2 separate regions of the Homo sapiens genome follow, and region 1 is linked to region 2. Evidence: fine-mapped expression QTL. A gene starts in region 2. The other region holds a variant in brackets. All regions are shown on one strand. Distances are from middle to middle.

Region 1 (5,371 bases), 150 kb before region 2:
CGGCTCACTGCAACCTCCACCTCCCGGGCTCAAGCCATCTTCCCACCCCAGCCCTCCAAGCAGCTGGGACCACAGGCGTGCACCACCACACCCAGCTATTCTTTTTGTTTGTTTGTTTGTTTGTTTGTTCGTTTGTTTTGTACAGACAGGGTTTTGCTTTGTTACCCAGGCTGGTCTTGAACCCCTGAGCTCAAGCGATCTGCCTGCCTGGGTCTCCCAAAGTGCTGGGATTACAGGCATGAGCCCCCGCACCCAGCCTTCTCTCCTGCTTCTTTGCTGCCTGTGGCTTTCTCTACCCTGCTCCTCCCTTGCCGGCGTGGGTTTTGTCCCTAAGAACTGGTGCAAGAATGACCGGTCCTTCATCTCTTCCTTGCAGCTCAGAGACTTTCAAGTCTACCTTGCTTCTTAGGTTTATGCTGCTTTGGACACTTATTTCCTAAAATGTATAATTCACATTTATTTTTCAGAACTATTCCTTTTGGTTCCACAACACTAAAGATGTCAAGAGCTTACAATAATCAGACTTAGCACCCCTTCCCTTTGTCCACAGTGCCTCTGCCAGCTTCTTTAATTCCTCTGCCTTTCTTGAAGGAGCAGATAAGTCCAATGGGGTCTGGCCTCCAGGTTGGTGTGTGATGAGATAGTTGGCAAGGTAGGACTGCCTGCAGGTCCTCAGTAAATGTTCATTCATTTGCTGAGGGAAGTAATGATTCATCCCCCTAGGCAAACTCCTTCCATGATTTGGAATTTAGGTCTGAAGTTTCCTGGCCAATGCGCCTGGGAAGCCACTGAGCTGGCTGTCAGCTGAGTAGGGACTAAGGATGTTCAACTGTGGGTACTGAAAAGCGGCACTAGATTGAAATGGAGTCCTGAGCTGCAAGTTGGGGAGCACAGCAGTGTTGGAGCATCCTGAAAGTCATAGGAAGAATGGGCTTCGAGTCACTCCAACTCAGGATGTTCCTGATTCCCTGATAATGATCATGATGATGATGATGATGACGATGATGATGGCATGAAGGTGGTGCCCTCCTAGGCCTGGAGGTTAGGGGTAGCCAGTCTGTCTCTGCTTTCTAGCAGTGAGAGCCTCAGGCTGTCAGGCAGGGAGGTTGGCCTTGGGAGGTAGGCATAGAAGGAATAGTGGAGCATAGCAGAGCCCTAGGGCGCAGGCCTGAACACAGCCAGTCCTCTCTGTGAACAGGATAATGCAATACTTAAGGACCCACTGTTCCTAATTTGCTCTCTAACCATCCTCTTCTTCGCAGCTCTTACCAGAATTTAAATTATGTGGGTTTAGTTGTTTGTTTACTTATTTCACCTTCTTGTCTACTTGGTCACCTGCCACAGGGCAGGAGCAATGTCTAATCTGCCCCCTACTCTATACCCAGAGCCCAGCACAGTGCATGGCTCAGAGGAAATTCACATCAGTGATCATGAGTGAATGAATTTGTAAAGTGAAAGCGTGGATGAAGGACCTCCCAGCCCCTTGCCCTTTGTCATGTTAGTTTGGAATTGGGGATGTGAGGTGTCCTCTCACTGGTGCAGTTGAAGGAAGGTGCCGGATACGGTTCAGATTCCTCGGTGGTCCCGAGTTCCCTGGGTGGGGAGGTTCTGTGTGCCTATGAGGAGGTGAGAGTCAGGCATTCTCCAGGGAGTAGGGTGCCCCCACCAGCTTTCACAGGCCTTCTGTAAAACTGGTCCCGCCAGGCCTTGAGTCCTTTCCTGCCTTGGGGTGAAGGACACCCAGACAACCACAGGAGTTTGGCCAGCCGGGCTGAACGGCTACAGCACGCCCCACGAGCCTGGATCACGTTCCACACCTGCAGTAGGAGCTGCAGGAACCTCCTGGCCCTGCGAGCTTCAGTGGGGTCAGCAGCCAGGCACACCTGCAGGGGGCGTCAGTGAGAGCTGGGCATTGGAATTGCCCTACACAGTTGCTGCCTTGGAAATTCAGACTTGAAATGAGAAATTAATGGAGGATTGAATTGATGTTTCTTTCATGAGCCTGTGATTGTTGTAAAAAGAGGTGTGTCAAATGCTTGGTGAGACCCATGCAGGATTCTTTAAAGAACACTGAGGCAAACCAGACCTTATAGGGAAAAACAGGCCTCACGGAGACTGAAGTTAAAATATGGACCAGGGCCAGTGTTTCTTCATGAAGGGGGTGAGCAGAGATTTGAGGAGGCTGCAGGGTGGGAGGAAACTCATCATTTTTATTAAGGAGTTGACAAGAATAGGATCGCGGCTTGTCTTTGATTTGCGTTAAGCAGTAAAATGAAGGGATAGGCTGGAGGGCTGAGAGCAGGGTGGCAGCAGGTGCGTGCAGTCGGTATGCCTCTGCTGGAGGGAGTGGCCAGGCCACAGACATGGGACACCACATAGCAGTCCTCACACTCCTCCTCTGAGGTCCTCAGGGAGGCATTTGTGTCTCGAGACTGTTTCAGAGACCCATGTCTTCTCAGGAGATGCCAA[G/C]GCTCAGGTCAGAGACTTGTTGAGTTTTTAAGAGACTGTCTGAAGCACACACCCTGCCCTAATAAGTCAATATTTCTGTTCCTCCTGGAGACCTCACATTCCAAAGTGTGGTACTTCGGGCTCTTGTAAATGTTGGAATTCCTAAGACTCTCTCTGGAGGACAGGTAAGATGTCAGTGGGAACACACATACACACATGCACGTGCGTGTGTGCACGCACGGCTGGCATGTCCATGGAAACTGCCTTGGCGTGGAATGAGCAGGGCTGCCTCTCAATGAGGTATTCCTTCCCTCACAATATAGCACTGGAGCCATCGGTACATGTAGAAAAGTGTTACTGGGAGGTATCTTAATCAGCCTACAAGTCCTAGTTCCAAAAGTAAGAATGCATCATTCATTTTTGAGTGGGTTATGAATAACTCACTACAACTAAATACAGTGAATATCGTAAACCTAGAATAAGGAGTCTGTTAGATCAATTTGAAACCATTCAAATCATTTCAACCTTTGATTTATATGGAGGGATTTGGCAAGTGGCTTTAAAATCAAAATTAAAAATAGCTTGGGAAACAGCAGATGGAGGATATGAGTTGATGCTTTACCCTATAGACCCAGGAGGCCCGCCTGCCCTTCCCAGACAACTGGCCAATGAATTATTGGGTCAACTGAGGACCTCTGCCAAGCGCCTGTTCATGCCTCCCTCACGTGTAGTAAAAGGCATGAATGCGCCAGCCCATCTAGTCTTGAGCTTTGGTGCTAAACTTTCTGGCTTAGTATGGAGTTGGATTTCTAGAAATCACATATTCAAATCATGGGATTTATGAGCCCCATTGCAGATAAACATTGGAGCCATTGAAAAATTGGCAAATACCTAGGATCGTGTTTTCAGGGCGTGAGAGGATTTTATATATGTTTACTTTTACACCATAAACTCCAGCTGCCTCATTACCTCACTCAAGACAAAAAGATCACTGGAAAGAAATGTAAAAGCTTTCAAGGTACTGTTTTCTCTGAAGGGTTTGGGACTTTCCACTTTTTGGAGTTTTTTTTTTTTATAGTAGTAACTGATGCATCAGATACTATATTAGGTAAAGAATTATAAGAAGAACATAAAAAACGTGAAACTCTCAGATGAGAGTTCTCTAGTAGAAAATTGTTAGCTGAAAGAAAAAAAAAATCACCCATACAAAAGGAACATGGAGTCATTGCTGGAACCCAAGGCCAACTCTTGCCAGGAGGTTTTGGGTCAGAAGCCTGCGTGTCCTGCCCTTCTGCCCTGGACTATCTGGAAGACCCTGCTGGGCGGCAGTGGCAGAGTGGGCCTGGCCATGCCACTTGCACCTCCACGTGGACATGCAGCTGGTGACAGGAAAGGGGAAGGTTCCAGCAGACCCGCTATCACAAAACAACTTACAGAGGGAGTCCCCAAGTGATAGTCCTGTTTAGTCATTGACACGTAACTCAGAAGAGAGTGAAAAGGCTGTGGTAAAATACAATTTGCTTAACATTGGAAAGGGTTCTGTCATCTGGTAAGTTTTACTTGCATGATAAGGTTTCAATCAGTGAACACCAGAAGCCAGCCTTGTCCAGGGTCCCTTAGGTGTAACTGTGTGATAATAGGGAGGCTCCAGGCAGGCTGGCAGAGGCTGGCTGAGGGTGAAAAGCTAGATTAAGATTCACCTGTGAGCCACTGCTCACCTGTTTGTGTGGGGAGGGCTGCAGTAGCTCAACTGTGTGTGGGAGAGGGCTGCACTAGCTCACCTGTGTGTGTGGGGGAGGGCTGCACTAGCTCACCTGTGTGGGGGGAGGGCTGCACTAGCTCACCTGTGTGTGTGGGGGAGGGCTGTACTAGCTCACCTGTGTGTGTGGGGGAGGGCTGCACTAGCTCACCTGTGTGTGTGGGGGAGGGCTGCACTAGCTCACCTGTGTGTGTGGGGGAGGGCTGCACTAGCTCACCTGTGTGTGTGGGGGAGGGCTGTACTAGCTCACCTGTGTGGGGGGAGGGCAGTACCAGCTCACCTGTGTGTGTGGGGGAGGGCTGCACTAGCTCACCTGTGTGTGTGGGGGAGGGCTGCAGTAGCTCACCTGTGTGTGGGGGTGGAGGGCTGTACAGCTCACCTGTGTGAGTGGGGAGGGCTGCACTAGCTCACCTGTGTGTGTGGGGGAGGGCTGCACTAGCTCACCTGTGTGTGGGGGTGGAGGGCTGTACAGCTCACCTGTGTGAGTGGGGAGGGCTGCACTAGCTCACCTGTGTGTGGGGGGGAGGGCTGTACTAGCTCACCTGTGTGGGGGCTGAGGGCTGCACTAGGTCACCTGTATAGGGCGGAGGGCAGCACTGGCTCACCTGTGGAATGAAGGTTGTACTAGCTTACCTGTCAGGGGAGAGGAGGCCTGCGCTGAGACTCGGCTGATCAGAAAGGGGAGAAAAGAGGGTCACTCTGATTGCCATCATCTCAAAACGTTTAATACTGTCACGATTTGAAAGGAAGAGCTAAGGTACTTGTCCAGTAGCCCAATCTCCAAGTCCATCTTTGATCTGAATGTTGAGATCAAGGATGAGAAACACCTTTTTGCCCCATCGGGATTGCCCATCCAGGGAACTCCCTCCATTTCCCACTGACTCACTTAAGGTTGTATCTCCTTCTCTGATGAAACACTCAATGGGGTCACCCACTTGCCTGAATAGGTCCTGAGGAAAGCCTCTTCCCGGCATTCCTCCTCCTTACTGAGCATAAGTGTGTCCCGTAGGGCGAAGGGGAAAGAAAGTGGACTTCCTCTGCCGACACCCCTCAAATGAAGTCGCAAGTGATATCGGTGGTGCAGATGAGGGTTTGGCATCCCGCCAGATGCACCTGCCAGTCCCTCCTCCTCACATGGCCCTCCCTTTGATCACCATGATGGGT
Region 2 (5,371 bases):
GACCCCTCCTCTGTGCCCAGTGCCCTCACTGCCATCATTTCATGCTACTGAGAACAAAGTGTGGATCAAATCCTTCCCAAGAGTCTCCTGATCTCAACAGACTGAGCCCCAAGATCTGGGGAAGGAGAGCGATGGTTCTAGGCGCACCTGGAAACTGCCCTGCACTCCTGGGTCCCGAGGTTTCTGTGGGGCGGCTGTCAAGGGGGCTGCTCTCTCTCTCTTTCTCAGGCTGCAGGTGCACTAGGCCGTCCACTCTCTCTCTCTCTCAGGCTGCAGGTGCACCAGGCCGTCCACTCACTCTCTCTCTCGGGCTGCAGGTACACCAGGCCGTCCACTCTCTCTCTCTCTCTCTCTCTCGGGCTGCAGGTGCACCAGGCCGTCCACTCTCTCTCTCTCTCTCAGGCTGTAGGTGCACCAGGCCGTCCACTCTCTCTCTTTCTCGGGCTGCAGGTGCACCAGGCCGTCCACTCTCTCTCTTTCTCGGGCTGCAGGTGCACCAGGCCGTCCAGGGAGCCCGGGCCTGCCGGGTATGCCAGGCCGCAGCGTCAGCATCGGCTACCTCCTGGTGAAGCACAGCCAGACGGACCAGGAGCCCATGTGCCCAGTGGGCATGAACAAACTCTGGAGTGGATACAGCCTGCTGTACTTCGAGGGCCAGGAGAAGGCGCACAACCAGGACCTGGGTAGGTACCTCCCACCCGGCCCCCGTTGCCTGCTCAGGGCTGGCCCGGAAGTGGCCAAGATCAAAGGGCCACAGCGAGACTCCCAAACCCTCCACGGCTGGTAAGTTCCCCTGACGGAAGGGTCCATCTACATTCCTCGAGTGCAGAAAGATTAAAACGGCCTTTGAAGCAGAAGCCTTACAAAGCCCTTAAACCTCAGGACCTTAACACAGGGACCTGCCTTTTAACCTGGTATTGACTTCCGCAGGCTCCCATGTGACCCGTCTGACCCCCGACCCCTCTCCAGTGGAGACCACCAATTACTTCACCTCCTTCTTGTTTTTGACCCAAGTTCTGTAGACTTGGAGTCAGGCAGGGGCCATGAGGGGCTGGGGTTCATGTAAGACTCTCCCATACAGCCCCCCGAGGAAAATGGACCCATGGACACGTGTGCATGCTCTTATTTAAGGAAGCCTTTGAAAGGCATTAACGCGACTTCGAATACAGAAAATGCAATACACACAAATTACAAGTGGAGGTAGCTTAGTCTGAGGTCCTCTTTGAGGGGGTGACGGGAAGGGTCTCTGGGATACTGGCTGTGTTCTGCCTCCTCGGTGCAGGTTACATCAGGCGTTCTGCCCCCGGGAAGCATGTTGCTGGCTCATGGTGCCTTCACATTCCTGCCTGTGCGCCCCGCCTCCACAATGAGTTTCTAAAGAACAACGGGGCAAAGGCCGCCAAGGATAAGGGCCAAAAATAGATCTAGGAACAGGGCCAAGGAGGCAGCCTAGCACCGGGCATGTTTGCTAAAGGTGGCTGCACTTCTGGGTCTGAGCTTTTCAGCAATCCATGTGAAGAGGGAAACCTGCTTAGCTGCAGCATTCGTTGTGGCCAGGAGATAAAGGCTATCTTAGTCTCCAGAAGCAATAAAGCTACATGGAAGGGAGAAGGGCCAGGACTCCTTCTGGGGTGGCTCCTTGGGGTCAAAGAGCGACCCCTTGGAGGCCATCAGAGTTTTCTTGGGGCCAGTGCTGTTAAGACCCCACTAAGGTAAGGCTCACCCAAAATGCTATTCCATGAAGACGCCACTCCCTGGTGATCCAACTTGGCCCAGTATGTGTGAGAACTTGTAGAAGAACAGAGCTGTTCCAAAATGCCAGTGGAGTCTGATCAAAAAGAGAAAAAGAAAGAAATTGGGAAGCCTTAGCCTGGCCCTCCAGTAGGTGGCTAAACTCCACCAGGTGCCCTGGGGCGAGTCCGTGACACACAGCCTCCTGGGCCTGGCTGGGGCTGGCAGGTGCGTCTTCTAGCCACACTGCACTGTGATCTCATGACCCCTCCTTCCACAGGGCTGGCGGGCTCCTGCCTGGCGCGGTTCAGCACCATGCCCTTCCTGTACTGCAACCCTGGTGATGTCTGCTACTATGCCAGCCGGAACGACAAGTCCTACTGGCTCTCTACCACTGCGCCGCTGCCCATGATGCCCGTGGCCGAGGACGAGATCAAGCCCTACATCAGCCGCTGTTCTGTGTGTGAGGCCCCGGCCATCGCCATCGCGGTCCACAGTCAGGATGTCTCCATCCCACACTGCCCAGCTGGGTGGCGGAGTTTGTGGATCGGATATTCCTTCCTCATGGTATGTGGTATTTGCCCAGTTCCCCTCCCCAACCACACCCTGCTGGGGACACAGCAAGAACAGCTGCCTTTGTGAGAAGAATCAGACACGGCAGTCCAGGGTGTGCACTGCACAAGGGTAGTTGGCCCAGGAAGCGAGCGAGAGCTGGAACACAGCTTACACTTGGCTAACTGAGCCACATGCTGGGCACAGGGCTTCCTCCACCCAGAAAGGGCTCATTAATTTGCCACCAGGCCTTTGTAAGGAGTGTAACCAGGACGAACTTGCCTGTTATCCGTCTTACTAGGTACAACACCAACACCAAAGGTGCAGCTGCTTTGGGTTTACCAGAAGTCTAAATATATGGGAGACTTTTCTCTAGAATCCTGATCTTATTTAGAATCTATCTGGAACCTAGAATACCCTGAAGAAATACCTATTAACTGGCTGGCTTAAAATGGATATATATTCGTGAGGAAAATTCTGGAATACCTTTGGGTATAAAATAGAGAGCCTGTGGATACTTTGAAAGCCAGGAGAAGGTGCACAACCAGGACCTGGGAAGGCACCGCCCACCCTTCCGGATCGCCTTTGGGTATAAAATAGAGAACCCTCAGCTTTGGCCAGATTAGGTTTAGCTTAACCTCCAGGGGAGAGACCACAGCACCATAGTGTCTCTTGCAATATTGCCTATTAAAGCAGAGGCTCCTCAACTTGGAATAGGGTCCCGTCCCGATAAATTCATTGTAAGATGAAGATACTATAAGTTGAAAGTGCGTTTTCAATTTATGATGGGTTTATCTGGATGTAACCCCACCAAAAATCAAATAGTGAATTGAATACATATTGCTTTTGCACCATCGAAAACTCAAAAATCCTAAGTCTAACCATGGTAAATCAGGGACCATCTGTATACTATTGTAGGGAGAAAAGAAAGTCTCACTGAGGACAGTGGGTCTTCCAGTGAGTTTATTTATATGCATTATAACTGTCATAACTCCAGCTATATGGATTGGATGCCCAGCATGTTAAATATTTCATAAATTATATATATATATATATATATATATACACACACACACACACACACACACACAACATAAAATATAAATTACATAGTGATTGCTAATCTTTCAAAACAACAGGAAAAAAAATCCGGATTCTAGGAAAGGAAGGAAAAGATAAACAAGTATTGGCATTTTAATAGGTATCGTTGCTATGATAAGTTGGAGCAACAGGATGCTAAATCCTGGGCAGGGACAGGCACAATTTCTACCTTTCCAGAAGCTTATCATGGAAGGTGACTTTGGAGCAACCTTCTTTTGTTTCACAGTGACCTTCAGGGTGCCCCTGTGTCAGGAAGTAAGCTTTGGTTGCTCCTGTTTTTTTCACTCCCGTTGTTAAATTCAAAATAAATGAGCCTCTCCCTTGTGAAGGGCATGATTACACAGTATCCAGAAAGGTCAGGCATCCCCTGTTCCATTAGCATCAGGTTTCAAATGACTGTCACGAGATAAGCAGACATTATCCTCTGCACACGTAACTCTCTGCTTACATAAATGGCTGACAGCCCCAGCAAGCCTGGAACTTGACATCCCCAAAAGGCATGGGTTGAGACGGCTCCTGGGTCAGGACAGATGGGCCAGAAGTACCTTGACTTCTGAGAACAGAAAGTCCCCATTGTCCCTGACAATGGATAAGTGAGCAGACACATCTGTGTACTGGAGATGTGCCCCCTCCAGATGTGCCCTGACTGCCGTCTAGGAGGCAGGACCTAAACCAAGACAGCTGTGTGCCTCGTCTGCACTTTAAATACTCTTTGATCCCTTCTGTGTGGTGACAAGCATATGGTACCACTAGGGCTGCTGGCATCTCAGCATAATAAGAGCTGACTTTGGAGAGGAGAGGACAGCTTGGCTGAGAGCAACTGCCCCACCGTCCCCAGTGGGTACGCAGAAGGCGAGAGCAGTGCTGAGGCTAGCGCCTGGCTCACCCTTCTTTTGTCCGTGAGGATGGGTGGCCCCAGAGGATGCATTTTCTGCATTCCCTACAAGCGAGCGCCACGTGGGAGGGAGGACAAGGGCAGAGCCCCGGATGCAGACTGCAGCAGCAAAAGTCATTTTCCTCCCCTCCCCTCGGTGGCCTCTCTCAAAGCTGCTCTGGCAGAGGCTACAAGTATCTAGCCAGCCGTTATTTTAGTTCCTCTTTTTTCAATTCTGGCTACTATCTGGAGCCCTCACAGCCCCTTCTCCAGGTCAGCCTCTCGTCCAGGCAATTCTCTTAAGATACATGAGCTGCTATGAGTACCAAGCCAGAGGTTTGTCCACTGAGAGAAGCACATTGGAAAGGGTGCGTGTGCCTGGACTGTGTGCACTTATGCACGTGTGTGCATAGGGGTGTGTACACAAGCATGCACTGTGTGTGTGTGTGTGTACATGCGTGCATTTGTGTGTGTGCATGAGTGTACACCATGTGTGTGCATGTGTGCATGTATGCATGTGTGTGTGCGCAGCAAACTCAGCTCTTACCTGGCTGGTGCCAGCCTCTAAGACTTCTCACATTGTGCTCCCTTCTGACCTCGTTCTGGGAGTCCCAGGTGTCTCCTTTGGGCAGCTCCCAGCATGGCCTCAGCTCCTTCAGACCAAAGTGAAGCCGGAGGTGCCCTGGAGGACGTCTCCACTTCTTATTACCTGCTCATTAGCAGACAAGAGCAGGCAGCTCAGGGCTGGACAGGCTTCTGCCTTATGTGAGCAGAACACTTTTTAAAGGTTTTTGGGTTTTTTTTTGTATTTAAAGGAAAGCTTAAACTGGGGCCCCTGCCCAAATATATCATAGAACAGCCCCTTTTTTCCCTGCAAACTGAACTGAGATATTTCTATTCTAAGTAAACAGATTCCAAAGCCCACTTACCACTCAAAGCCTGCTCAGCCAAGCCAAATGGCCCTTATACACCAACTCTGGGATCCAGGAGGCCTGCCGTGCGCTTCCATAAAGGCTAAACATGTTGATGCAACAGAAAGTAGAACTTTAAAATGAAAAAAAAAAAAAGGCTTCCTTGAAGACCTCAGCCATCTCCCAGCCAGCCTCAGAATCA

Direction of the effects. Alleles are on the strand shown, and positions count from the first base shown. SD is a standard deviation of normalised expression in the study named.
With allele C in place of G in region 1, the expression in thyroid of the gene that starts at base 2,256 in region 2 is higher (small effect, 0.26 SD a copy in GTEx).

What was found. PIP is the estimated chance that this variant, and not a neighbour inherited with it, causes the effect.
Region 1: its variant is the best candidate, but not a certain one, in a credible set for the expression of COL4A2-AS1 in thyroid (GTEx, PIP 0.71).

The regions. Positions count from the first base shown.
Region 1 is chr13:110,351,117-110,356,487 of GRCh38, forward strand. The region is part of intron 3 of COL4A2 (collagen type IV alpha 2 chain); the gene reads left to right. Among named protein-coding and RNA genes, the nearest start is that of MIR8073, 13 kb to the left of the region's middle. RefSeq lists an enhancer at 1,792-2,304. The variant G/C (reference allele first, on the strand shown) is at 2,470.
Region 2 is chr13:110,505,924-110,511,294 of GRCh38, forward strand. COL4A2-AS1 (COL4A2 antisense RNA 1) reads right to left here and starts at 2,256. Exons shown (of 3, transcript NR_046583.1): 1 at 2,176-2,256; 2 at 1,724-1,828. It overlaps COL4A2 (collagen type IV alpha 2 chain), which reads left to right. Exons shown (of 48, transcript NM_001846.4): 46 at 492-683; 47 at 2,012-2,298. RefSeq lists enhancers at 1,677-2,178, 2,179-2,678.